Homo sapiens: one gene and its partners. The protein of the gene in region 4 interacts with the protein of the main gene of each other region in a biochemical or structural test. Each region holds a gene or a part of one and is shown on either strand. Other genes may lie near its edges.

Region 1 (7,024 bases), on a different chromosome or scaffold from region 4:
CCATGCAGATCTGGGCCCTAAGGCCAGCCTAGGCCCAGTTGGTGATGGGATCTTTGCCATTCATATCAAGTCAATCTGAGGGCCTGGGCCCAGAGGCCAGATGGTTAAAGGTTCAGATTAGGTCCCTTCTTTGTGGTAGAGGGTAATGGGTATTTAATAAATTAATCCAAAGTGCTGTAATCCCAGTACTTTGGGAGGCTGAGGCGGGTGGATCACTTGAGATCAGGAGTTGAGACCAGCCTGGCCAACATGGTAAAACCCCGACTCTACTAAAAATACAAAAATTAGCCGGGTGTGGTGGCATGTGCCTGTAATCCCAGCTACCTGGGAGTCTGAGGCAGGAGAATCACTTGAACCTGGGAGGCGGAGGTTGCACCTGAGCTGAGATCACACCACTGCACTCCAGCCTGGGCAATAGAGTGAGACTGTCTCAAAAACAAACAAACAAACAAACAAAAAAACACTACCACCAACAAAAACACAATAGATGGGGAAACTGAGGCTGGTGCAGGAAGGGTTGGGCTAGGGTATCAACCTAAGGTGAGATGTGGTCCTGGGTCTACTCAGATGGGGAGGTTGGCAGGGTGGGGAGCTTGAAAGGGTCTTGCAGGCAGAGCGTGGGTGACTGACTCCTCAGGTAGGCCTGACCTGCACTCTGCTGCAGACCCTCGGCAGCGCAGCCCACTCTGGTGGCTGGGGCCTTCTTCCTATCTGGCGCCTAAGGATTCTCGGAATGCCTGCTGGGTAAGGGGGCTGTGGGCACAGTGGGTCAAGGCGAGGCTCGGTGCAGCTCACAGCTCAGCTCACAGTGAGGTGAGGTTCCACTGTTGCTCTGGCTTTGCGGGGCGTGGAGGTACTGGGGTCTCCAGGAGCACAAAGCAGGAGACTGCCTTTTCGAGGGGAAGGGAAAGGGGGGAAAAGCAAACAAGGGCTGGAGCTGCTTTCCTAGGGAAATGCCATTTGCATAGACACCCAAGGCAGCTGGAAGTTCTGGACACAGTTCTTCTAATGCCAGCTTAACACGCACACTGCTGGCCGTCTATACAATGTAAAACATCTCATCTGTGAAACCTTATTTTTTCTTTTTGAGTCAGAATCTAGCTCTGCCTCCCAGGTTCAAGCTGGGATTACAGGCGTATGTCACCACGCCTGGCTAATTTTGTATTTTTATTAGAGGCGGGGTTTTACCATGTTGGCCAGGCTGGTCTCAAACTCCTGACCTCAGGTGATCCGCCTGTCTCAGCCTCCCAAAGTGCTGGGATTACAGGCGTGAGCCACCGCACCCGGCCCATCCATCTCCCTTGAATGCTGAAAGCAAGTCGTGAGCACACACTTGTGCCTAGGCCTGTGGGAGGGCGGCGCTGTGGGTCCTGCCTGCCGTCAGTTTTCTCTCTCCTGGGGGTCAGGGAGACTTGGAGCTCTGTCCCTTCTTGGCTTAGTCATGAACCTCTCTAAGCCTCAGTGTCCTGTGTGAACAAACAGCTCAGTGAGATGGTGGGAGGGCGGAGTGTCCTGTCAGCAGGCATGAGGAATTAAAAATTAAGAACACCCAGGGCATTATGGTAAGAAAATAATGAGTTGAAGCATAAAGGTAATGGTTAGTGCCAACTTCCTCCCAGCGTGCCAGGCCCTGTTCAAAGTACATGAAGGAGTTCCTTATTTCGTCTTCCCAATAGCCCAGGGCGGGGCTCTCAGACCATGAAACCCATTTCACAGATGAAGAAATTGACACACTGCTGCTAACTGCCAGAGCCGGGCTTTGAACTAGGCCATTAGATTTCCGTGCCACAGTCATCGTCATTATCGTCATCTACATCTAAGGCTGTTTGGTACCCTGTAGGGTAAATGTGGGGTACATGATGGTGAATCAGGTCGCAGAACCCTTCTCTGCCATCATGATGAAACATGTACTGGCATGGGATTCGCAATGATCATAGTTAGGAAGGCCTTTGGTGGCAAAGAAGAGGAAACTCAGTGAATGGTGATGAGGACACATTTGGGTTCATTTTTCTTACACACAGTTGGAGGAGACAGCTCAGTGACACCCTCAGGCCTGGCCGCTCTCTGCCTCCCCACTCTGCTCTTCTTGGTCAGCCACTGCAGCTCCATCTTTGAAGGAGCTGCCCTGGCTGTGTCTACTCCCTGGCATCCAACCCCTGCCTCCAGCCTCTGAGCCCTCATTGACCAGAACTGGGTTACATGGTTGTCACCAGCTGCAAGGGATGCTGGGAAGCTGAGGGAGAGGAGGGCCATGGTTGGCTTAGATGAATGAGGATGCAGGGCCACCCCGAAGAAAATTGGGGTTCTATCAGCAAGGAGCCAGGTGGAATGGATATCGGAGAGGTAAATAGCATCTGCCAGTAAAGAAGGCTGTAAGACACTGTATGGGGTGATCCCATTTGTGAAGAAGGATGTGTGATGCGCACAAGTGTTTAGGAAAAACACTAGAAGAATTAGCGATGGTCTCTCTGGGAATGGGGATTGTGATACGTTTTTCTCATGCTGCCTCTCTGCCTTTCTTCTCAAGAGAAACAGCAGACACCAAAGAACAGGTGTAGCCTTCTGTTAAGTGGTACAGAGGAATCGCCCTGCAGCCTGGCCTCTGTCCCCTGTGCTGACAGCAGGTGCCTGGGTTTTCTGCTTTGACAGGTTCTTGAGGGCTGGTGTCCGAGGAGAACTTCTAATATTTATTTATACTCTGATTTTGTTTCACAAAGAAGAAAAAGGCTGGGCGTGGTGGCTCATGTCTGTCGTCCCAGCACTTTGGGAGGCCGAGGTGGGGTGGATCACTTTGAGGTCAGGAGTTCAAGACCAGCCTGGCCAACATGATGAAACCCCCGTCTTTACTAAAAATACAAAATAATTAGCCAGGCATAGCTCATGCCTGTAGTCCCAGCTACTCGGGAGGCTGAGGCAGGAGAATTGCTTGAACCCAGGAGGCAGAGGTTGCAGTGAGCCAAGATTGTGCCACTGCCCTCCAGCCTCCAGCAAGACTCAGTATCCAAAAACAAAGAAAGAAAGAAAGGGCCCTTATGAATCATCTTCAAGTTCCTCCCTTCCAAGAACAGAGATGCTAGGCGACTTGCCCAGAGGCACACAGCCAGCATGTAGCAGGATTCATGCCTGTGGGAGCTGGGGTTGGGGGATATTGACGGCTTTAGCGGATCAAAAGAGCTGGTGAGTAGGGCTATACAATCTGGGGGTCATCCTGTGAGAGAGCCCCCAGACTGCTCAGTTCTTAGGGGTCCAGTCATATGCTGTCTTTTTGCCCCAGAGGAGAAATGTCTGAAGTAAGACCCCTCTCCAGAGACATCTTGATGGAGACCCTCCTGTATGAGCAGCTCCTGGAACCCCCGACCATGGAGGTTCTTGGCATGACTGACTCTGAAGAGGACCTGGACCCTATGGAGGACTTCGATTCTTTGGAATGCATGGAGGGCAGGTAGGTCCCCATGGCCTGCCCTACCCCCTGCCTGATAGTGACTTCAGGGGTGGGCTGGATGAGCAGACATTCTATGAGCGGGGGAGCGCCTGCAGATGCCTCCCAGGCAGGGCCTCCGAGAGGAAGATTTCCCGGATGTGGGCATGGAGGCTTCTGCCCTGGGAGCGGCTTCACTTTGCTGCCCCACCCTCCCCTGATACCAGCTCACAGACCCCTGGACAGCCAGCATGTTCACAGTCTCAAGATGGACCTGGGGCCCCTGGCTGTCAAAATGGCACAGTGTTTGGGCCTCAGGGAGCTAGACAGGCCCTTAGCGACCTGCTGAGGACATCAGGGCCTCTTGAAGGAGGTGACTCTGTTGCCAGAAAGGGGACCCGATCCAGATCCCAAGAGAGGGTTCTTAGATCTCAAGCAAGAAAGAATTTGGGCCACACGCAGTGGCTCGCGCCTGTAATCCCAGCACTTAGGGAGGCTGAGGCAGGCGGATCACTTGAGGTCAGGAGCTCGAGACCAGCCTGGCCAACATGGCAAAACCCTGTCTCTACTAAAAATACAAAAAGTAGCTGGGCCTGGTGGCACATGTCTGTAGTCCCAGCTAGTCGGGAGGCTGAGGCAGGAGAATCTCTTGAACCCAGGAGGCAGAGGTTGCAGTGACCCAAGGTTGCAAAAATGCACTCCAGCCTGGGCAACAGAGCGAGACTCCATCTCAAAAAAAGAAAACCTACTCTATAGGCAGAGCAGCGGCATGGGCTGCTCAACTGAATATACTTATAGTTATTTCCTGATTACATGCTAAACAAGGGGTGGATTATTCATGAGTTTCCGGGTAAGGGGTGGGCAGTTCCCGGAACCGAGAATTCCTCCTCCTTTTAGACAATATAGGGCAACTTCCTGACGTTGCCGTGGCATTTGTAAACTGTCGTGGCACTGGTGAGTGACTCCAACATGCTAATATAGTTGGTGCACAATGAATAGTGAGGATGACTGGAGGTCACTTTTGTGCCCATCTTGGCTTTGGTGGGCTTTGGCTGGCGTCTTTGCCGAATCCTGTTTTATCAGCAGGGTCTTTGTAACCTGTATCTTATGCTGATGTCCTATCTCATCCTGTGACTTAGAATTCCTAGCCTCCTGGGAATGCAACCCAGTAGGTCTCAGCCTTTTGTTACCCAGCCCCTAATCAAGATGGAGTCGCTCTGGTTCAACTGCCTCTGACGGCTCTCATTTTAGAAAACCAGAACCGGGCCGGGCGCCGTGGCTCATGCCTGTAATCCCAGCACTTTGGGAGGCTGAGGTGGGCGGATCACCTGAGGTTGGGAGTTCGAGACTAGCCTGGCCAACATGGTGAAACCCAACCTCTACTAAAAATACAAATGTTACCCAGGTATGGGGCCGGGGGTGGGGGGATGGGCGCTGGTAGTCCCAGCTACTCAGGAGGCTGAGGCAGGAAAATCACTTGAACCCGGGACGTGGAGGTTGCAGTGAGCCCTGAGATTGCACCACTGCACTCCAGCCTGGGTAACAGAGTAAGACTCCGTTTCACAAAAAAAGAGAAAGAGAAAAGAAAGAAAGAAAAAAGAAAGAAAACCAGAACCTATGGAAGAGCCTGAGGAGGCCATGCAGTTCCTGGTCCCGGCTTCAAAGAATCACTGAGGCATGAAGAAGGGATCTTCCTTGGACTGACAAGGACCCTGGAGGCAGCAGGATTTGCCTGGGGTTTCAGGGGCCAAGGTCCAGTAGGACCTGACCCTTGCACTCTGCCAACTGCTCCCAGCTATGTCCAGCACACGGCAGCATACCCAGATGTCCAGGCACACCCGGCCATCCCAGCGGCAGGAAGGACCTGCACTTTTTTTTTTTTTTTTTGAGACAGAGTCTCTGTCACCCAGGCTGGAGTGCAGTGGCATGATCTTGGCTCACTGCAACCTCCACCTCCCGGGTTCAAGTGATTTTCCTGCCTCAGCCTCCTGAGTAGCTGGGAGTGCAGGCGTGCACCAGCATGCCCGGCTTTTTTTTTTTTTTTGAGACGGAGTCTCGCTGTGTCGCCCAGGCTGGAGTACAGTGGCATGATCTCTGCTCACCACAAGCTCCACCTCCCTGGTTTACGCCATTCTCCTGCCTCAGCCTCCTGAGTAGCTGGGACTACAGGCGCCTGCCACCACACCTGGCTAATTTTTTGTATTTTCAGTAGAGACAGGGTTTCATCATGTTAGCCAGGATGGTCTCGATCTCCTGACCTCGTGATCTGCCTGCCTCGGCCTCCCAAAAAGTGCTGGGATTACAGGCGTGAGCCACCACACCCGGCCAGGACTGGCACTTTCATTCTTCCCCTGGTACAGATGAGGAACGTGAAGGCCCAGGAGCAGCTGACCTCAGTAGTTTCTACCCTGAGCCTGGAAGAGAATGGTCAGGCCTGACCTGGGCTGTTGCTTTCTGCTGGGGAATCCTGTCTCTGATGTGGCACCTCCCACAGGCCAGGGACCAGCTCCATGTTCCACAGGATTCTTTTCTGCTCAGGATTTTTTTTTTCAGCCTCAGGATTTTTAGTCATTAAGGATTTTAGAACTGGAGGCACCTGTCCATTAATGGACAAGGTTGGAGGACATGAAGCCTGGGGCAGTATTTTCCTGAGGTTTCCCAGGGTAACAGAAGGTAGGACCACAGCCCCCAACCCTGATTGCCAGCCCACACCTGTACCCCTCCCACCCGCATCCCCTCCAAGTAGGGAGTGTAGGCCCAGGGCATTGGCAGGTCAGGTGGGTGGGGCCAGGGCCCAGGGCCGGCCTCAGCTCAGGGCCCCTAGGAGTCCCACTTCCCTGGGAGTTCCCCCGGTGTAGTCACTGGGATGGAATGCACACAGGTCCCTGGTAGAGGCCCAGACCAGCAAGCTGGGAGGGTGGGGAGTGTCTTAGTCTTTGTGTGGGAGTGAATGCGGGTGGGGTGTAGGATCAAGGATGTGGTTTAGTGGGGGGCCTACTAGGGGCTTCTTAGTCCCCCCATTTGGAGAGGGGTGGTGCCAGCAGGGCTGGTTTCAGGATTGGGACCAGGACACAGGTCTTAGAGCCCCCTCACCTCCCACAAAGGAAGGTAAGCTGCAACCCCTGTGGGAAGGGGGCTCAAGGGGGCTCAGCCATCCGGGGGACTCAGCACCACCAGACCTGTCCATTCCCCTTGGTCAGCCTCAGCCATCCGGGGGCTCAGCACCCCCAGACCTGCCTGTTCCCCTTGTCCACCATTTCCACCAAAGCCCACAGGTGGGCCTGCCCCAGGATTCTTTTTGAAATAGCTTGCACCTCTGGGGCCACCCACGGATGGGACCTCATGGGTATCTCTGAATCCAAGTGGGAGCCGGAGGAGGGATACAGGGAGGCCCACTCACTGCCTGCCCCAAATCTGACACCATCTCTTATCCTCTGGGCCACTCCCAGCTGCACACAATCCGTTGGCTGGGTGGGTCCAGGTGCATGTGGCCTCCACGGCACAGCCACACCCGACTCCTGTGTGTGCTCCCTGCAGTGACGCATTGGCCCTGCGGCTGGCCTGCATCGGGGACGAGATGGACGTGAGCCTCAGGGCCCCGCGCCT
Region 2 (7,452 bases), on a different chromosome or scaffold from region 4:
TACTGATTCAGAAACTCTGAAGGTGCAGCTCAGCACTCTGCTTTTTAGCAAACAATCCAGGTGATTCTGATGCACAGAAGAGTTTGAAACTCATTGCACTAAAATTAGTTTATAAATATATCACACATCTATAATTTTGGAGTATCACTGCCGAAGGCTCTCAGGTAACTCCCTTCCTTGACATTATCTTCTACCAAAGACAGCCAACTTGCCCAAGATTACATTCCTAAGGAGTGAGGAGAGACAGCACACAGAAAATGACTGATCCAGAGTGGCTTTCTTGCCTCAATGTGGGCTATCTTTGAAGGGCCACCCCAACTTCAGAGCTCTTATGTTTGGACCAGTAAACTCATGGACAAGAATGAAAAGAAAATTTTATTTTATTCTTCCTTTTTGGGGGGAAGCCTTTATGTGCTTCCTTTCTCCACAATCTGCAGAGCGTTTTGCACTTCAGGGCTGTGACCTTAGTTTCCAGGATTTGGCCCCTCCAGAGATTAGGATGGAGTGACCCTGTTGAGGAGGGCATGGTGACTGGGGCTTGAAGTACAGAGAGACCTAGGCCAGTCCTGGAGGTGGACATCCTGGCTGGTGCCAAGACTGCTGGGAAATGGAGTGTCCTCTGGGCAGCAGAAGAATGTGCCCCACCCTTGCATGGTAGAACTTTAGAAGGGACAGCTGGGAAGAAACCAATGTTGTGATGTCAGGAAAATCTGCTGAGTCTTCACTACCAGAAACATCACAGCAGATGGGGTGCATTGTTCCCTTGAGCACATTCTACCAGCATGGTAACTTTTCAAGAATTTTACAGGAGATATGTTGATAGGGCATTTGCTAAACGTATAATTAAAAAAAATTGTAGTGCAATGAGTTTCAAACTCTGCTGTGCACCAGAATCACCTGGAATGTTTGCTAAAAAGCAGATAGCTGGGCTCCACCTTCAGAGTTTCTGAATCAACAGGTCCAGGGTGGAGCTGACATGTGTATTTATAACAACTTACCAGAATTGCTGATACTGCTGGTCCCCAGAACCACTGTCTTAGGGAGAACAGGATAAAAGTAAGACAAAGAAACCATGGAGAACATAGTCCAAAGGTGTGTATTTTCATTCACTGCATGCTTGCTTGCTCAGCACCTGATCAGTACATCTGCTGCCTTCTCCCTTAGTTTGTGTCCCCAGTGTCAGAATTTGGCTCTTCCTCTTTGTTGGCAGTGTCTGGCACTCTGTGGACTAAGGTCATAAATGGAGCTATGAGCCATCACACAGACCATGCTGGCCTGGTAGGGGAGCAGAGCTGATGTGTACCTTGAGGGATGTGCAGTTTGTATAACATTCAAGGTGACCAGCAGAGGGTGAGAGTGGCCTGGGGCTCAGCAGGTGCATCCCTCACCCAGCTGGGTATCCAGAGTGTCTGCACCTGTCCAGGAAGTTCTTTGCACAAAGGGTCTTCTGCCCCTCAAGCCACGCACTGTCTGAGCAGAGGGAAGGGTTGTGTCCACCAAGAGAGGGGACATCTTCTCATTTGCACAAGGGCCAAGTGTAAGCTTGCAGAGTCCTAAGCTGTGAGAGCAAAGCAGGAACTCGGCTGAAGAGGCTCTTTTTACAGCCACCTAAAGACTCTGGGGAAAGTGCATCCGTGAGACTGTGGAGAAGGATGGGGCTTCCCCAAAAGGAGTGACACTGGATTGATTTACTTTACAAAATGGAGGACCGTTATACTTCTTCCACCTGAGGATTGAATAGCCCACTACCATTTGCTGCTGGTGTCTGCATGACCTGAGTGGCATAGCTCATCTGGATTCCTGCTCTAAGCAGCATCAGCATTACCAGGGACCCCACCCCGGACCTACAGAATCAGAAAACCAGGCCATGGCCCAGCTGGAAGTGTTTTAACAAGCCCCCTCCTCCAAGGCGATTCTGATATATTGAAGCATTTGAGGTACTCTGGCTTGGAGCTTCTCCACTTCTAACAAACTTGGGAATCTCCTGGAGATTTTATTAAAGTCAGAATCTGAGATTGAAGTTCTGGAGTGGGGATTGAAAGTCTGTATTCTTAATAAGTTGCTTGGTAATGTGGATGCTGCAGATCCGCGAATTCACGTTGAGTAACAAAGGTTTATATTAGATTAATGGTTCTTGACCTTAACCTCTGTTTTACTCTTGGCTGTTATTAAAAAACAAACAAACATAGACTGGGTAGCCTATAAAAAACCAAAATTTATAGCTTACAGTTCTGGAGGCTGGAAAGTCCAAGATCAAGGCAGATTTGGTGTCTAATGAGAGTCTGCTTCCTGGTTCATAGACGATGCCTTAGCTCTCTGGGCCCTCTTTTATAAGGGCACTAATCCCATTCATGAGAGCTCTGTGCAGAGGTCCCACCTCTTCAAGTTGGTAACTAGAATGTCAGCATATGAATTTTTGGGGGACACGAACAGCAACTTCACATAAACACGTTGAAATATATGGATGTTTGCATCCCATCCACGGAGGTCCTGTGCCAGTTGTGGCATGAGCTGGACTGGAAATTGGACCTTGTTTTAAAATGTATTTATAGCTCCCCTGCTGATTCTAATGTGCAGGCAGATGTCAGGAGCCCCTAGCCTAGAAGCAAATGGGTCAGGCTCTTAGAAGGATGTAAGTTAAGGGGAAGTTAAAAGAGGAATTTGGGAGCAATCTGCTCCTTCTGGCTGATGAAAGTCTAGGGATTGTGGGGAGTGCCAAAGGGGCCAGAGACATCATATTAAGTGAGTTGCTCCTTGTTTAAATGAGGCCTTTGGGCCTCTGCTTCACATTCTCAGAACAAATAATGATGGCATGTGGCAAAAGGCAGGCTTCTTCTGCATTGTGGGATATTCAGCATAGAACTGGCTCTCTTTATCAGCTCCTGATTTGCTCTCCCTGCTTCCATACTAGCACTGGATTTTTGCTTATTTAATCTTTTTACCCTCCTTTGTTTAGTTCTTAAATTCCATTTTGTCATTTAACCTGATAACCTACATTTTGGTTGTCATGGAAAACAACATCCTGACTTATAAAACTGGAAGGTTGTTTCAGGACCCAGAAACTGCATCAGGCAGTGCTCAGAATCCACTGTCATCATATTTGGAGCCTCCTCTGGGATGGGTTTCTGAGTGGCCATATATTCCTTTGCAATGAAGAGGAGACTGTGGAGGACAGGGTGACCACTCTGCTTTTAGACATCATTAGTGTAGGGGCAGGTTTGTTGAAGTAGCCTTAAATGACTTTAGTAAAAAGAGTGTATTTTTATTTTTATATTCCAATGGCTGTAGGATCAAGGCCAGAATTAGGATGAACTGGGGAATAAAATAAGTTTTCTTGACTATAAGTTGTAAAATGCGTAGTTTTTAAGTATGATTTTTAAAAAGCATATTTCCTGTGAATAGCAGGGCAGAATTTTACTATGGAAATGAACTTCAAAGGTTAACATGTTTTAATTATTTAGAAAGTGAAGACGGGATTAAAACAGATAAATAGGATTCTACAACAAAAATCAAATGTAAAGAACTACAGAATATTAATTTTGCTCAAGTCTTTTAGCATATTTGGTATTACAAAAGAATGAGTAATATAACCAAGAGAAGAAATCTTCCTTCAGTCTGTAGTTTAAACTTAACATGGATCAATGTTATGCTCAAGCACTTTTAAAAATGCCTGCACAGAATTGTTAGCCATTAATATTTTTTCTTGCTGATTCACCTGTTTTTTAATCAACGCGTCTTTGACAAAATTGTTTATCAATGTCAGGAAATAAACGTGGTCATTTGCTTGAAATGCTAATGTGAAACCACTCAGTGAAAAAGCAATTCTAATCCAAGCTTGCCAATGGCGGTGTTGTCATAGGATCCTATTAAATTAGAATATATTAATCTACACTGTGTGGTTGGCTATGGTATGGGGCAGGGCATTTCGTCTGCCTTTAAATGAGTCGGTTTTTAAAAGTTAAAATCTGGAAATGGAAAAAAAAAGTCTATATGGTTAGTAGCGATTATAGTTCGCAATGCGAACAAAAGAATCTGGTTCCCTTTCAATGGAATTATTTTAATTCATTAAATTATCAGAAAATTCCAGTCCTCGCCATCTATTCCAAGAGCATGCAGTAGGTGGCACCTAAAAGCTCTTTGGAGGCGAACAGGCGCCATTTAAGCAGGAGCAGCAGCCTCTGCAGCAGTTGGCACATCTGAGAAGGCAGAGATTGAAGAGAGTAGGAGGAGCGTGCAGCGGCGGTGACAGTGCCAGGCCGGAGCGGCTCAGGCCAGCGCAGGTGCAGGGGCTGCGAGCGGGTGGAGCGCGAGGGCGCTGGGCGCAGGGAGCACGGCCGGTGGGCGGTGCAGGGCGCACGGCGGGCGAGCAGCTGACAGCATCGTCACGGCGGCGGGAGGGAGTGCGCTGCGCCTGCCTCCGGGAGGAGCCGCATCCACACACCCTGCGCTGCCCTGTCCTGCGCGAGTGGAGCTCTGAAGAAGCTCTGAGCGGAGTTGTGTTCTTCCCCAGGTAACCGATTTCCCCCTTCTGCCGTGGCTTCGCTGCGTCCGCATTGGGGCACGGGCGGCTTTGGCATGATTGTTTGCCAGCCCCTGGAAAGGGATTACCGCTCTCAGGGAGGGCGAGTCAGCGTGTACTGGAGTTGGTAAGAGGGGAAGAAATCTGCATTTCTGTATCCTTGTTAGGGAGGGTGAGCATCATGCTGTCCTTGTCTAAAACATGTTCTTTTTTAAAAATCTGTATCTTACGTATTATTAGGGATTCCTTCCAAAACAGGATTTACCGTTTTGGAAAATTCTACTGTGCAGGTGTTTCTGTTAATGTGGAAGTTTAATGGATTTAGGAAAAGAGTAAGAAGATGTGGTCTAAAGTGAGAAAAAAGCCAAGCACGCTAGGGACTGCCGTTTGGTTCGGCATGCTTTCATCCTCGACTCCTTCACTTCATGCGCTTGGCCGAGACCTGTCTAAATCTTTTGTTTGTCTTCTTAAAGAATGTGTTTCATGATATCTACATGTGCTCCTTTCCGCTTCCTTGTTGTAAGAGCAGAAGATGGGCAAGGGGCTGCATCCAGTCCTTAGTTGTAAGACTGTGGTTTCCCATCAGATGACAATGACTGCTGACAGCTCCCAGGCTCGCCTGAAAAGCAGTGCTGGCTTCTGGCGTTGTGGGAACCTGCCTCTCTCCTTCTCTCTTGAAAAATGCTGTTTTTCCTCTTTAAAACTCCAATTCACATTCTATGTGGGTTTGGGAGACTTTTAAACTAGAAGCTCTGTGAATCATCTGTTACATCCATTGAATGCTGGAATACAACATTGTGGTGGAATTCAGTTTCTTCCTACTGTGCAGAGACACAGCTTGCCTTCCCTAGGAATTTATTTTACATATTTGCCCTCGTTATCTTTTAAATGGATCCCTTCAGATGTGAGAAGCTAGTCCAGCATATCAGAACTTTTCTGCTTCAAACTAAAAATTTTCAAAAATATTATTTTTGAGGAAGATTTTCCAGGTAACGCTAAAAGTCTGGAGCATTTTACATTTCAAATCAGTCACAATGTGCTCCATTTCCAGTGACATTTGGATTTGAGGAGGTGGAGGGGGAGGGAGAGAAAAGGGGAGGATAAAATTAGAATAAATTTAACAAATTTGTAGGGGAATCATACTTTTTTTTCTTCTTGGTTGTTGTCTGAAATTGAAAATTGTCCACAATTTTATCTATCTCTGGAAATGCAGGAGGCTTTGTGGGCTGGGGACAGGAAGACACATAGTTCATTTTATAGAAATAAAAGATACAGTGGCAAGGAAACATTTTCATCCCATTTAACATATGGCATTTAATTTGGTAATAGTCCCGGGCAAGCACAGGGAAAGGAAGGAGAAAGGAGGGGGTATTGCTGTCTATACCAAGGCACAGAACTGCTGCTCACACTTCAGTGATCCCTGCAGATGGGAAGTATGTGTTCATGGTTATTGTAGAAACCTCCAGAATCTTTCTTTGTTACAGCTTTAATAGAATTGTTCCTAAGAGGCGACTCAGAAAACATACAGATTGAATGCCAAGTTGTGGAAGTCACTTTTCAGCTTGTGTCTAACAACCCAGCATTCTCAGCAAAGCAGTTTCCTCATGAGAAGAGTGGAGGAGACCTTTTTTTTAAAAAAATTATTTATTGTATGTTGTTCGTATCCTATACACCACACATGACTTTTACTGTATTGGAAATGTATTATTTCAGTGGTAAATACTGCATATCTTACTGAAAAATTAAAACCTTTTAAAAAACAACTGGGGTGCTTTTGTCAAAAAGAGAGTGTATCTGTGATAATAAAAAGTATTGTTCATTCTTCTTCTAATTTGGAGACCAGAGTTGATATGTTGAAAATTAACCTATTTATTTATGCAAAATCATCATTTCCCTGTGACAAATGCCATACATTTTTCCACCAGAGAATTTCTTTGTGAGAGGACCATTCAGTTGTCTGGGGTGGAGTGGTTGCCTGCCAGCTGTTTTAAGTAAAAAAAGTGTTTGGTGTTGATCTGCAACTTTCAATTCAGATAACAACCATCCCCAATTCTCACTCATATGGTGGATTGCCTCTATCTATCATCAGTCTATCTACCTGGTATAAGTATTGACAGTGGACAGATGTCTTTTTAAGAGCAGAACTGATTTGTAGGACACTGATTTTGGTTATGATTTTTCCAGGAAAACAGCTGCTCAATCAAAAGGGAATACGATGGTTCTTATGTTGTCAAAATTGCTGATGGCTTTTTAAGAGTTAAATTTACTAATTCATACATATTTAAACATGAACTGAAAGTTATTTAACTGGTGTCAAATAATGCTTTAGTTTTCATTATATGACATGGCTTGCAAGCCTCTCCTCACTGACGGGGAAGGACTCTATGAAGTAATAAAAACAAATGCTCCCTCATTCTCTCCTTCTTTGCTCTCAGCCACTGGCAAATTTAGGAAAGAGATTCCTTATAGCTGTCTCCTAAATGCAGTGAAGTGTTTTCTTATAAATCTGTACTGTACAATAGAATTGAAATGTGTGAGTCATATGCACAGTTTAAAATGTCCTAATGGTCGTAATGGAAAAGTAAAGAGAAACAGCTGAAATTAATTTTAATGATATAGTTAAGCCAGCATATAAAAAATGACCATTTAGATATAATCCATACAAAATACTGGTAAGATATTTTACCTTTTTAAATGCCTGCTGACGACTTACAAGACATCTCAATTTGGATTAGCTGTGCTTCCAGTGCTCAATAGCCCACACAGCTGATGGCTACTGTATTGTCCAGCACAGCTATAGATCATTACTCAATTGACGGTAATTTAAAAGCTAACATGTTCGGCGCCATCACCAACTAAGCGCTATCAAAAATAAATATACAAATGATCTCAGATTGCTGTGAGTTATGTGTCCTTCTCTTTCCTGCCATTAA
Region 3 (7,024 bases), on a different chromosome or scaffold from region 4:
CACCTGTTCAGATGGTGTCATTCTTCACTTTGGCCAGCCTATACAGCAATAGAAGAGGCCTATGAGCTATTCCCTCACTGACACCCTGCTATCCCCTTTATAATGTAGATCTCAAAAACAACCAAACCGATTCCAGCTACTTTATTACTTGACTTATAGTAAGTGGCAGAGTAACCTTATGTTTTGAATATATGTGTAATAATAGTATCTTTTATGTTTTTTCAGAGAAGACTATTCAAGGACCTCAAGTAATTAAAACATATAGGCCTTAAACCAAAAAAAAAAAAAAACCCTGTCTTTAAATCTGTTTTGAATGTTTAGCATAATTATACTCTTGTCATTTCCCTAGGGGATGGCATTCCTACTGTATTTGTGGCAGTGGCAGGCAGAAGTAATGGTTTGGGACCAGTGATGTCTGGGAACACTGCATATCCAGTTATCAGCTGTCCTCCCCTCACACCAGACTGGGGAGTTCAGGATGTGTGGTCTTCTCTTCGACTACCCAGTGGTAAGATACATTGAATTTTTAAAAACTGTTCATTACAAGCATTTAACAGATGCACAACAGTAGACAGAATAGCATAATAAAATCTCATGTACCCATGACCTAGCTTCAGCAATTAACATCTTGTTGTGTCTACAGCCATCTCCTGCTGGATTATTTTAAAGCAGATCTTAGACGTTATAGTAATTTATACTTAAGTATATGTTTAAGTAATACAGGCTCTAGTTTTTAAATCATAATCATGATATTGTTATAGAACAAAAGGAGCCCACTATCTGATGCATTAGAAACCAGTACTATCTAAGCCACCAGGTTTTTGAGAAAGAAAGGCTTCCTCTTTCAAGTTGACCAACAAGGAGACATGAGTCCAGCTCAAATCTGTGCTGGCTTTAAGGCAGCAATTTTATTAGAAAAGGTTTAGGGGATAGATTCTGGGATTAGTAGGTGATTGGTGGAAGGAAAGGGGAGGTCTAGAAAGTCCTTGGGCATGTGCAGTTATCTCTTCATGTTATTTCATGGATCACGTGTGTAAATTTGGGGGAGTTAGAATGAATTGTGGTGGAAATTGGGCCTGTGACATCAGTAAGCTGGTTCTGTGCAGACTCTAGTTGGCCATATTGTTTAATCTACCATTCTGCAAACTCAGGAATTTCTGTTAGTTGTTGGTATCTTTTAACTCTTGGGGACACAGTTTCAATACCATATTCACACCTAAGAAAGACTAGTGGTAGTTTCTTAAGGTATAATTTTTAGTTGGGGTCCAAGTTTTCTAATTGTCTCATCTGTTTGTTCAGATCCACCACAGTCCTTATATTGCATTTAGTTGATAATCTCTTGATTTTTTAAATATATAACAATTCATCCTCCCTTTTTCCCTTTCATTTTTTCAATAGAATTTTCTATATTTTGGATTTGGCTTCTTACATTTCTAGGTGGTGGTAAACATGCTCTTCCATTCCCTATATTTTCTATAAACTGATGGTGAGATCTGTAATAAAATCAAGTTTAGATATTTTTTTCCCAAGAATTCATGGTATTGATTTTTTTTTTTAAAGTAAATGTGATCATGTTACTTCTGTAGAGAGAATACAATTTTATTCTTAAATATTGGGGATAAGGCTGGGTGCAGTGGCTCATGCCTGTCATCCCAGCACTTTGGGAGGCTGAAGTGGGCAGATCTCTGGAGGTCAGGAGTTCAAGACCTGCCTGGCCAATATGGTGAAACCCCATCTCTACTAAAAATACAAAAATTACCTAGGCATGGTGGTGAGCATCTGTAATCCCAGCTACTCAGAGGCTGAGGTAGGAGAATCGCTTGAACCTGGGAGGCAGAGGTGAGTCAAGATTGTACCAATGGATTCCAAACTGGGCAACAGAGTGAGACTCGGTCTCAAAATAAAAAATTGGGGATAAAAGATAATAACATAAGGAAGTCCCCTTTTGGCTGATGGAACTGGATCACGTAACAGTGTTGTGGTTCGTTCATCATAGTCCAAGATATGATCTGATATTCTGCAGTTTATGAGGGTCAATATTGTTTCAGTAGGAGATTTGCTTTATTACTAAAATCCCTAACTTTTCTCATATCTGTATATATCCAGTCTTGATATGTGTCAAGTATATTAAGTCTTTGAGCCCTCCAACCTGGTCCAGTGGACTGGCTTCTCTCTAGGCATCCTGTACTGCTGTTGTCTTAGGATCCCCCTTTACCATAATTTTGGAGACTCATTTTGCCTTTCTCTAGGCTTGGATCTCCCATGTTTTCCCCTTACTTGGTTTATTTTTATTTTGTTGGAGTACATTCTTGAACTTGGGGGCAAAAGAATACAAAAGGTAAATTTTGATACCTTGTGTATCTAAAATGTGTATATTGAAGCCCTATACTTGATAGTTTAGAAATAGAATCCTATGCTGAAAATCATTTTGCTTTGGAATTTTGGGAGCATTATTACTCCACTGTCTCCTAGCATCCACAGTTGAGGACTCCATTGCTTTTCCACCAGTCTGATTCTAGGTTTCTTATGAATTTTGTTTCTCTCTGGAATCTTTCAGGATCTTTTGTCTGTTTTCATTGTTCTTAAATTTTACACAGATGTGATGTGCTGAGTCTGTTTTCATTATGGACTTTCGGTGAGCTCTTTTAATCTGAAATTCTGATTTCTTAGTCCCCATTTTCCTTGAATTATTTAATTTTCATACCCCTCCATATTCTCTCTTCTCATTTTTGAATTTGAATAAATTTGGGCTTCCCTTGATTTCTATTCTACTTGTTTGTCTTGTTGGTATACTTTCTGGAATATTTCCTAAATTTTACATTCCAACCCTTCTATTGAGTTTTTCTTTTTTTTCTTGAGACGGAGTCGGGCTCTCTTGCCCAGGCTGGAGTGCAATGGCGCAATCTCAGCTTACTGCAGCCTCCGCCTCCCAGGTTCAAGCGGTTCTCGTGCCTCAACCTCCTGAGTACCTGGGATTATAGGTATGCACCACCACGCCTGGCTAATTTTTGTATTTTTAGTGGAGATGTGGTTTCACCATGTTGGCCAGGCTGGTCTCGAACTCTTGACCTCAGGTGATCTGCCTGCCCTGGCCTCCCAAAGTGCTGAGGTTATGGGCGTCAGCCACTGTGCCCGGCCTTCATTTTGGATACAGGTGTTTTTTGTTTGTTTTGACACAGGGTCTTGCTCTGTTGCCCAGGTGGGAGCACAGTGGCATGATCATATCTCACTGGACCCTTGAACTCCCCGGGCTCATGTGATCCGCCCACCTCAAACTCCCAAGTAGCTATGACTACAGGCCCACACCATCACACCTGGTTAATTTTTTTACTTTTTGTAGAGATGGGCACTCCGTATGTTGTCCAGGCTTGTCCTGAACTCCTGGACTCAAGCAATCTTCCCACCTCAGCCTCCCAAAGTGTTGGGATTGGGTAGGAACCACTGCCTCTGGGGTTTTTTTTTTTTTTTTTACACAATGTTTTTATATTTCTTTTGGTTTTTGTTTTCTGGGTTTTTGTTGTTGTTGTTGTTTGTGTTTGTATGTTTTTAAATTTCCAAAAGCTCTTTTTTGTTCTCTGGAGATGATTATAGTCTGTTGCATATAGTTACTTTCTTCAGCTGTCTGGTAATCCTTGGCTGTTTGCGCTTTTAAGAGTGGAATACTATAAAAAACAATTGGAAACTTCAAGTGGGTGGTCCGTGTCAAAATTGGGCTTCACTGTGGGGTGTATCTGGTAGGGATTGTTCTTCAAACAACCCCTCACATTAGTGTCTAGGTATTTTCTTAAGTGTTGACCAGAATTACTCAGAGAACAAAAGTTGTCTGTGCCTGGCGTCCCCTAGTTCAAAGACGCCAAGACTGAAGTCTGTTTTACCTTCAGAAAAATTAAAGGCCTGGCTTGGTGGCTCATGCCTATAATCCCAACACTTTGGGAGGCAGAGATTGGTGGATTGCCTGAGCTCAGCCTAGGCAACCTGGCGAAACCCCATCTCTACCATAAATACAAAAATTAGCTAGGCATGGTGGCACACGCCTGTGGTCCCAGCTACTTGGGAAGCCAAGGTGGGATGATCACTGGAGCCTGGGAAGTTGAGGCAGCAGTGAGCCGTGATTGCACCACTGCACTCCGGATGACAGAGCGAGACCGTGTCTCAGAAAAAAATAATGTTTAAAAAGAAAAAAATTGCTACAGTGCTTTAAAGAGGCAGTTACTCAGGTAGATGGAGTGGGGAAGGAGATTTGAGGACCTAGCTTCTTCTTAGACTTCGAGTCAGTCATCTTCTTCTTAGTCCCTATTCCCTTCCAAAGGTATCTGGTGCCACTAATTTAGTCAGTCACCCTTTGGGGGAGTTCTGTAATGTCAGTCATGTTGCTTCTCATCTTTCCCTGCTTTCAGTTTAGAATTAAGTTTTTTTTTTTTTTTTTTTTTAAATGGAGTTTCGCTCCTGTTGCCCAGGCTAGAATGCAATGGCGCAACCTCCGCCTCCCAGGTTCAAGCGATTCTCCTGCCTCAGCCTCCCAAGTAGCTGAAATCACAGGCATGCACCACCATGCCAGCTAATTTTGATTAAGTTTTCTTGGTCTGCTAACTTAGCTACCACTGTGTTTGCCTTTCAGTTGCCAAAATGTTACTGCTGTTATCTGGCCTTGTGTGTTCATGCCTATTTCCTTTACTGTTTTTATAGGCTCTGAGAATTAAATTTTGTGCCTAAGCTATCTTTAACAAGATGTGATTATACAAATGTCTCAAGCTAAAAATCAGCGGCTACAAATAAAGCTGTAACCAAATTTATGCCAGAGGAATTGTATAGATACCCATGGAGCTTACAAAAGGGGAGCATGATAAGCAAAAAATTGGCAGTTTTTATAGTAGTGTTGTTTCAGGAGTGACAAATAATCTGGAAGACTTGTACATAATGATCACTAGAATTGGGGATAATCTTTTGAGGAGTAGTTTTACAGTAACCTGTGTAAAATCCTGAAGACCGCCCATATTTCTCATCTCTGATGTCATGCTCACTAGATAACTTTTTTTTTTTTTTCTGCAATTTAAGCTATTCTTTTACCAGAAAGGGAGTCCTGGGCAGGAGGCACAGGTTATTTCAAATATTAGAGTGGAGCACTCTACCTAGCGTGCTAACAATAGTGGTTGACATTCTTGGAGCACATACTGTGTACCAGGCAATGCTCTAAGCACTTTATCTATGTTATTAACTCATTGAAGTGTCACATCAGGTAGCTACTAGTTAAAATTCCCTTCTCACAGAAGAGGAGAATAAATTAACGTGAAGTAACTTGACCAATACCACATATTAAGGGGTGGAGCTCCATAAAATAACGTATTAATACAAATTAGTAAATTGGCCTTGTGATTTGTATTTGACTCTGTTCTTGTGGATAATGGGAGTCAAAGAGCCTGATGAATTCCAAGAATATCGGGAAAATCGAGCTTTTGGAACTATAGCAAACACTAGACATAATAGTACCCCTGATTCTAGCAAACACTAGACATAATAGTACCACCTCAAGACACTCTGCCTGAGCAGACATGTGGCCCCTAGGATGTTACTTTTTTATTCTGCTGTCTTGGATCTTATTAATATTTATTTATAACTTGACATTTCCTAAAATTATTCTACGGATTTGACTTTTACTGCTCAAAAATATTAAAATAGTTCAAATGCAGATAGAAAGATTAGCTAGAAAACTGTCAAAACAACATAGCTCAAGTTTGTCTAAGAACAGGTACTTTTGTACTCTTACCTTGACCCTTATTTTGCTTCAGTTGTTCTTCGCCAGGGATTGAAAGGGATAGTGTATGTGAACAGAAGTTTCAAAAAGATAAGTTTCTTTGTAAGTGAGTTCTATAAGAAGGGTGATAGATGATATATATAAAATATCTCTTCATGGCAGGTAATACTGACTGCTTTTCCTCTTGTAATCACTTTACCACTCCGGTATTAAAGACAGTTGTACAGATTCTACTTTAGATTAGAATAATGCAGTAGCTTTTTATTTTCTGTGGCAGGACTGCTCTGAGTATAAAATTTTTTGTAAGGTTGTATTTTCATTACTAATTGAGCTCAATTTTCTGTCTTTTCCTTGCTGAACCAATAGGTCTTGGCTGTTCAACCGTACTTTCTCCAGAAGGATCAGCTCAATTTGCTGCTCAGATATTTGGGTTAAGCAACCATTTGGTATGGAGCAAACTGCGAGCAAGCATTTTGAACACATGGATTTCCTTGAAGCAGGCTGACAAGAAAATCAGAGAATGTAATTTATAAGAAAGAATGCCATTGAATTTTTTAGGGGAAAAACTACAAATTTCTAATTTAGCTGAAGGAAAATCAAGCAAGATGAAAAGGTAATTTTAAATTAGAGAACACAAATAAAATGTATTAGTGAATAAATGCTTCTCTAGATCCATATTAATAAACATGAGCATCTAACCCCTCCTTTCTTAGGCTAGACACCAAGATATTTCAGCCAGCCTTTATCATTCCTCTTACTTTATCCTTTTTCCTTAAGTATTGGTGGTCACTACTATTGAGTTTCTTCCTTAACACTGATTAAATGATCTTAACTCCCTCAGCTAAAACTGGCATTACTGACTCCCAGCTATATTTCTCCAGACTTGCATTTTTTTTTTTTTTTTTGAGACAGGGTCTCACTGTCGCCCAGGCTGGAGTGCAGTGGCGTGATCTCAGTTCACTGCTGCTTTCCCTCCTGGGCTCAAGCAGTTCTCCCACCTCAGCCTCTCGACTAACAGGGACTATAATCTTGCAGCACCATGCCGAGCTAATTTTATTTTTTGTAGAGATGAGCTCTCACTATGTCACCCAGGTTCGTCTCAAACTCCTGAACCCTAGTAATTCTCCTATCTCAGCCTCCCAAAGTGCTAGGGTTACAGACATGAGCCACTGTGCCTGTCTAGACTTGTACTTTCAACTGTCCATTTCTCCCTGTCTGTCCCATGGGCACTCATGAAAAAACAGAATGCTCCCAACTTTATTCATCTTCCAA
Region 4 (7,752 bases):
ATTGTTGTTGCCCAGAGCCATGGGTTTTTTAACCCCAAATTATCCACATGGTGTGTATTATGAATTCTTTGAACTCTTAAGGTTTTTGTGAGAAAAGGACTGTGAATTCAAAACAATAAGGCACTTGTGGGTGCACTACATAGATTCTGACAGTGTTGTGATTCTGTATAGGATTTTTAAAAATGACAACATTCACAAAATTTATTACTTTTTAAAAAATAACATGCCTATTAACTGGTTGCACTGATATAAAAGAAATATATTTGTGTTTTGTTTGTACTAAAATGCAAAAGCAAGAGTGCAATTTTTAAAATCTAGAAGTTAGGGGTTTTGTTGGAGAAAAATGGACTGATCTTTAAACTATTCAGTCTTACTGGGATTTTTATGCATAGAAACTCACATATAAACATGAAATAAACAGTGCCAGTATTCATAGGAAAGTGAGAAACTGTAATATTTGGCCATTATTCTATTCAACAGGTTTTAGAGGCATGCCACCATTTTTTCCTTATATTTTTGCTTAATTTTTTTAAATTGTCATTTAATTCTTAAACTGTCATTTATTTGAGATGGAAATAAGATCTAAAGTTAGTTGCCTTTGCCTGTAAAACATGTGATTTGCAAATTATTATTTTTCTTTTTTTTAACAAATGGAAGTAAATTTGTTTCACGTAAATCTTAATTTTCAACCTTTCTGGATACCTTAATTGTAACTGTCAGTTTGCACTGGTCGGTATATGGAAACACATTGCTCTACCCTGCTACTTAGTTGATTTTAAAGTGAATTTACAGTGATGAGAAATTTGTGAAAAATATATTGTATTTCTTTTGATGTTTCAAAAGGTTGCCTATGAAAAACTGATTTGTTAAAACATGCTACATGTCCAAAAATAAAGACCAGAATGACATTTTGATAATTTTCTGAGTTTGTCTTATTTTATGAACAGACTATTATTTACTAGTGGAACAGGCTATCCCTGCCCCCGACACATTCTTTTTCAGTGCAATTTGGATGTGTTGCTTGGTCTATTAGTAAAACAAGAAATACCCTTTGGGCGATGAATTACTCTGTCATTTTTTGTTTCTAGAATATCTTCTCTCTCTCACTCATGGAATAGCGAGTTCAATTGTGCCTTTGTTTCCTTACCCAAATAAGCCCTTGTTTTTCATTGCCCTAGCATTATCACGTGAGACAAGGAAAATATCTACAAACTATACTGTGTATGTGAGCTACATAATTATGCTTTCTACTTTGCCCAACACAAATTTGTAAACTTTCTTAAAACATTATGAGACTTGTGATTTTCTTTCTTTCTTTCTTTCTTTTTTTTTTAGCTCATCAGCTATTAGGGTATTTTCATTTATTTATTTATATATTTTTGAGACGGAGTTTCGCTCTTGTTGCCCAGGCTGGAGTGCAGTGGCACGATCTTGGCTCACTGCAACCTCCGCCTCCCGGGTTCAAATGATTCTCCCGCCTCAACCTCCTGAGTAGCTGGGATTACGGGCGCCCACCACCACACTGGCTAACTTTAGTATTTTTTAGTAGAGATGGGGTTTCACCATTTTGGCCGGGCTGATCTCGAACTCCTGATCTCATGATCTGCTGTTAGTGTATTTTATGTGTGGCCCAAGACAAATCTTCCAGCGTGGCCCAGGGAAGCCAAAAGATTGGACATCCCTGATTTAGTTTCTCCCACTCCTTTTGTGGGAAGCAGTGGAAAGCAGTCACCTATGTTTATGTTTTGATTTATCTTATGCCAAAACTTATTTTTGGCAAAGTCAGGGTAGTATAGGTCTGTGTTTACTTTTGTGAAGTAATTTTAAAGCCTCTTTATCCATCTCTGCATTCCCAAATGGATGTGGCTAGATGTTGAATTGTATCATCCTGTGGCTGGATTTTTTAATATAAAATTATGAAAAAGTTCTATGTAGAATTTGATTTGTAGCCTTTAGTACTTGGGGGAACTGATTTTTATCCTTTATCATTTCTATTTGGGTATGGCTCAGTGGTTCTCAACTAGGGCTTGGGGGGACAGTTTTGTTTCCCAGGGGACATCTGGCAATGTCTGGTTGTTACTACTAGGTGGGGTGGGGCATTGGCATCAAGTGAGTAGAGGTCAGGGTTGCTGCTAAGCATTCCGCGATGCTCTGGGCCATCCCCCACAACACATGTATCTGTCCCAAAATGTCAATAGTGCTGAGGCTGAGAAACCTTGGTGCTGTTGATGATTTCATCTGTGAAAGATAGCATGAATCAACTGTCCTTATGTATCAGTAGCCTTTTATGCCCATCACAAATGTAATGTTCAAATATAGTAAAGATGGTCTTGCCGGGCATGGTGGCTCACGCCTGTAATCCCAGCACTTTGGGAGGCCGAGGTGGGCGGATCACGAGGTCAGGATATCGAGACCATCCCGGCTAACACGGTGAAACCCCGTGTCTACTAAAAATACAAAAAATTAGCTGGGCGTGGTGGCGAGCACCTGTAGTCCCAGCTACTTGGGAGGCTGAGGCAGGAGAATGGCGTGAACCCGGGAGGCGGAGCTTGCAGTGAGCCGAGATTGCGCCACTGCACTCCAGCCTAGGAGTCAGAGTGAGACTCCGTCTCAAAAAAAAAAAAAAAAAAAAAAGATGGCCTCTCAGAAATAGTATAGACACCCATTTGAACCTTAATAAAGTTGAGCTTTTCATGGCCAACTTTTTTGGCGTGTAAAACATAGGACAGCCATGTTTTAAATGAAAAGACCAAAACAAGATTGAATAATGTTATAGAACAATGTACATCACTGGTCTGACATGACTAAATGATTGCCTACTTAGAGTATAATTGAAGAAAGATAAATGAAAAGGACTAAAAGAGTTGTATTCATGTATTTTCATACACTGGCATTCTACCAGGTAATATAAGCTCAGTAAAGTAAATCTTATGTTAATGTCTGTTCCTTGAGAGTTAAGACGACTCAAGGTCTTTATAGTGCTCTGATACACTGAAATCGATGAGCTGTATGTTGTGACTCAAGATTGTATTCTTACATGTCAGCTTTTTAATGTAGTGAAACAGTTCTTAACCAGGCAGTCATTCTAATTTGCCTGCATGCTAGGAGAAATTCCCATATTTTTGCATAAATCATTTGTTAAGATTTATTAGGCCACTTGTATAACTATATTTTGGCTTGTCTTTTCAATTGATTTTTAAAATTTACAAAATCGAACATAGCCAAGAATGAAGGCAGAGACCTAGAGTGATGAGGAAAACTAAAAATAAACCCATTTCACTTGTGTTGGCCAGCTGATAAGAGAAAATTGCCCAACTAGAGAAGGTTGATTCATGAAATATTTGGGTACTTCATCCAGAACCTAGGGCATCTCTTTTGTCCATTTCACTATGACTCTTCCATGATCAAGGATAGCCCACATTTTTCAGAAATGGGCACCACCTTTACCAATGCTTGAAATGCAAGTGAATGATCAGGAGGGAACCTTGCCATGGGACCTTGTCCCAGATGGAACTACCATGGCGAGTAGTCTGATGCTTCTAGTGTGACACTTACTTGGAGAGGCATCCAAGATAGGCCTTTTATTAAATACAGGCTTGGCCGGGTGCAGTGGCTCACACCTGTAATCCTAGCACTTTGGGAGGCCAAAGTGGGTGGATCACCTGAGGTCAGGGGTTCGAGACCAGCCTGGCCAACATGGCGAAACCTCGTCTCTACTAAAAATACGAAAATTATCCAGGCGTGGTGACGCATGCCTGTAATCCCAGCTTCTTGGGAGGCTGAGGCAGGAGAATCGCTTGAACCCAGGAGGCAGAGGTTGCAGTGAGCCGCGATCGCACCATTGCACTCCAGCCTGGGCAACAGAGTAAGACTCCATCTTAAAACTAAATACATACATACGTGCATACATGCATACATACATACATACAGCTTTAGGGTAAATTGTCTTTTTTTTTTTTTTTTTTGAGACAGAATCTTGCTCTTGTCACCCAGGCTGGAGTGCAGTGGCGCGATCTCGGCTCACTGCAACCTCCGCCTCCCAGGTTCAAGCAATTCTCCTGCCTCAGCCTCCTGAGTAGCTGGGATTACAGGCACCTGCCACCACGCCCAGCTAATTTTTGTACTTTTAGTAGAGACGGGGGTTTCGCCATGTTGGCCAGGCTGGTCGCAAACTCCTGACCTCAGGTGATCCGCCTGCTTCAGCCTCCCAAAGTGCTGGGATTACAGGAGTCAACCACCGCGCCCGGCCAGGTAAATGGTCTTTTTTAACTGGTCATATTTTAGATTTGGATTTAATCCTCTATAAACTTCAGAATTAAGAGAAAATGAAATGCTCCAGGGAGTAGTATTTCCCACTTAGAACATACAGCATATTTGCACTTCTTTTGTATGTCAAATAACTTGCTTTGTTTCTGTGGAAGCCAAGAAGTTTCTATCTTTCCAACCCTGCTTTCTAACATAAAATAGGAAAAATAGGGGTTTAGGAATATAAAATGTTTGGATATGAATCTTATCTGTTAGATAGTACTGAGTTATGTAGTTCTAGAACTATTGGATGTTTCTGGTTAGAAGGAAGTTTCTTTAGTTTATTTAACACTGCTGTGGAGTCAGCACATGCAGTCGCCAAATCAGTTAGATTAGAACCTACAGAGATCTCGGTAACAGGAGCACTGAGTGCTAGAAGGTTTAAAATAGATGTCATATGATACCAATTATAACTCAGTGAAATTTTACAGTCCTAGGACCCTATACAGAGCATAAGCCAAAATGGAAGATGGTCCTGTTTTCTATGGCTTTAAAAACATTTTTATTACAATGTTTGCTACGTTTTTTTTCTTTAAGCTTTTAATTAAAGTTTTTTTGGCTCTCCTAACCCATTTCTATATCGTCAAAGGAAATAGAAAAGAAGCGGCTAGGATAGCAGAAGAGATCTATGGTGGAATTTCAGGTAAAAGTACATGAATTTGTTCCTAATATTTAAAGAAAATCCCTCCTAGATAATTCATATGACTAGTATTTCTGGAAGGCAGATTATATTTATACTTTGATTTTAAGTGGGTAGTTTGAAAAATTGTCACTTAAAGTAGCAAATGCTGTTGGCTGCATCAATTTGTGGAGGATTTTCAGCTTTATTTTTTGCAAGTTCGTAGATCTTGTAGCAGTTGTTATTTAAGAAGTAAATAGGTAGTGGCTTACTAAGAGTATTTTGAGAAACTTCATTTCTACTAGCCAAAGTAATTACTTGTATATAATTATTTTCTTTAATATTTTAAAGCAAACTTTAACAATGAAGGGCATTCTAACCAGACTAAATTCTCTCAGGAAATAGAATGACTAATAAATTATAATTAAAGCAGCAAACGTGGCAAGCTATGTGTATTTTTTTTGCTGTCATTTGCAACTGGAATTGATTAACCACTTGTCACTGTCAGGAAAAGCTCTTCACTAAACCCATTTTATATGGTAGCATGCAAAGCACTCCAAACAAAGTTTATTCTAACATGAAATGCCAAGATTTGGGCAAAACATTTTAAATTCTCATGCTTTGTAGAGAATAGTGTCCATTTCTTTCAAGAAATGATTTACTTTAATTGTGGTGAGATGCTACAAAAGTAAATGAGTCAGATATCCCTGTCACTCCTGGGATTGTCACTTAATAGAGGAGTATTTATTCATAAACAGAGTTCAGAATTTCCCCGTGTATTTTTAGTGTTTGCAGGGGTTCCAGGATTACATCATTCTTTATCTAGTATCCATTTCAATTTGCATCCAGGATTCTCTTTCAAAATAGTCTTATGTGATTCCAATACACTAGACAACTCAGAAGACACTAGACAACAGCAGTCTTATCTAAAGAAATAAGACCTCCAAGGACGAAGCATCAGAATGCTTCAATTAACTGGGGAAAATGAGAAGAATTGTGAAGTTTCAGAACGTATCAGAAGGTCCGGACCATGGAAAGAGATTTCTTTTGGGGATTATATTTGTCACACATTTCAGGGAGGTATGTTACTTTGACTAGTTACAAAAAAAAAAAAAAAAAGTAATGCTTCTGATAAGTTTCAAGTTAAGCATGATCTGAAAAGTTATCTTCTAATTTAATTTGTCAATTTGGGCAAGGGCTTTCTAAAATTTTCAATAATAGTTTTGGTGTTCTCATAGATAAATCATTCTTCTGGTCTAAATTAGATGAAGTCCAACAAAGTCAATATTGGCAAGAACATGTTACAAATGTTTTCTCCTGTTGCACCTGCGCATTATTTCTGTCTTTGTGGTCTTTAATTAAGTGCACTCTTTTTTTTTTTTTTTTTTTTTGAGATGGAGTCTCGCTCTGTAGCCTAGGCTGGAGTGCAGTGGCACCATCTCGGCTCACTGCAACCTCCGCCTCCCAGGTCCCGGTTGAAGCAATTCTCCTGTCTTAGCCTCCTGAGTAGCTGGGATTACAGGCACACGCCACCATGCCCAGCTAATTTTTTTGTATTTTTAGTAGAGACAGGGTTTCACCATGTTGGCCAGGCTGGTCTTGAACTCCTGACCTCATGATCCGCCCGCCTCGGCCTCGCAAAGTGCTGGGATTACAGGCGTGAGCCACCGCGCCCGGCCTCAAGTGCACTCTTAAAAAAGGTATAAAACCTCCTTATAGTCAAAACCCATGTAAGCATGGTTTGAATTTAATCTGGAGCTGGAATACAAATCTCTTAAATACAGTTCGTTCATTCTGTAGTGCAAATATCTTTACTTGTTCAATCTCTTAAAATAGGTTAATTTGCAAGTAGCATAGTATTCTAAGGTCAAAAACATTTTTCAATTATTGTTAAAGAGGCAGGGAATGGTGCATGTTAATTTCCCAGTTTTATTTCTTTCATATATATATGTATATGTGTGTGTGTGTGTGTATACATATACACGAATCCCCCCACCCCCAAATTTACCAAGATTTGGTAAATAAGACTTTCTGTTTTTTTGTTTGTTTTGAGATGGATTCTTGCTCTGTCACCCAGGCTGGAGTTCAGTGGCACGATCTTAGCTCAGTGCAACCTCCTCCTCTGGGGTTCAAGCAATTCTCGTGCCTCAGCCTCCTGAGTAGCTGGGATTATAGGCGCACGCCACCACGCCCGGCTAATTTTTGTATTTTTAGTAGAGATGGGGTTTCGCTATGTTGGCCAGGCTGGTCTCGAACTCCTGACCTCAAGTGATCTGCCCACCTTGGCCTCCCAAAGTGCTGGGATTATAGGTGTGAGCACCTGTGCCTGGCCGCTAAATAAGTCTTTCTATAAGAATGTAGGCAGTAACATGCCTGGACCAGTATTTTTCACATGGTTCTGTGTTTTTCTTTTGATACCACTGTTAACAGTCAGATACTATATTATTACAAATCTTCCCCCGCCCCACAAAATACTTAAAAAATAACAACTCTTTATTCAAAACCCAGTCCTTTAAATATTAATGCAACTAGGCCAATACACCTAAACAATAAATCCTCCTCAACCCCTCAGTCTCTCTAATTCCTAAATTATCCCATAACAATATATTTAGGTGTATTAAAAATCAAGAACAAAATTTTGTGGAAGTGTTAAACTCAAACCAGAAATCAAACTCAAACCAGAAATCACCTTTGCTTTTGGTCACTTTTGCACTGGTCAGACAAATGTTTGTTGGGAAAATATATGACATTTAATCAGTAAATTAGCTAATTGACTTACAAAAGTCCCAGCCCAAGGTTAAGTTTCTTGAGTCTGCTAGCATATGCTA

The links.
Region 1: the proteins of ASB11 (region 4) and BIK form a complex in vitro, tested with the Homo sapiens proteins (one study listed by BioGRID).
Region 2: the proteins of ASB11 (region 4) and DIRAS2 form a complex in vitro, tested with the Homo sapiens proteins (one study listed by BioGRID).
Region 3: the proteins of ASB11 (region 4) and PAICS form a complex in vitro, tested with the Homo sapiens proteins (one study listed by BioGRID).

Annotation. Positions count from the first base shown.
Region 1 is NC_000022.11:43,120,742-43,127,765, forward strand, and holds part of BIK (bcl-2-interacting killer), read left to right. Parts: intron 1-3,274; 5' UTR 3,275-3,281; coding exon 3,282-3,442; intron 3,443-6,955; coding exon 6,956-7,024.
Region 2 is NC_000009.12:90,639,810-90,647,261, reverse strand, and holds the start of DIRAS2 (GTP-binding protein Di-Ras2), read left to right. Parts: upstream 1-4,437; 5' UTR 4,438-4,510; intron 4,511-7,452.
Region 3 is NC_000004.12:56,453,254-56,460,277, forward strand, and holds part of PAICS (bifunctional phosphoribosylaminoimidazole carboxylase/phosphoribosylaminoimidazole succinocarboxamide synthetase), read left to right. Parts: intron 1-349; coding exon 350-508; intron 509-6,118; coding exon 6,119-6,285; 3' UTR 6,286-7,024. UniProt on the Homo sapiens protein: Bifunctional phosphoribosylaminoimidazole carboxylase and phosphoribosylaminoimidazole succinocarboxamide synthetase catalyzing two reactions of the de novo purine biosynthetic pathway.
Region 4 is NC_000023.11:15,312,621-15,320,372, reverse strand, and holds the start of ASB11 (ankyrin repeat and SOCS box protein 11), read left to right. Parts: upstream 1-4,732; 5' UTR 4,733-4,767; coding exon 4,768-4,948; intron 4,949-5,813; exon of another isoform or gene 5,814-5,886; coding exon of another isoform or gene 5,887-6,004; intron 6,005-7,752. UniProt on the Homo sapiens protein: Substrate-recognition component of a cullin-5-RING E3 ubiquitin-protein ligase complex (ECS complex, also named CRL5 complex), which mediates the ubiquitination and subsequent proteasomal degradation of target proteins, such as BIK, DIRAS2 and RPN1.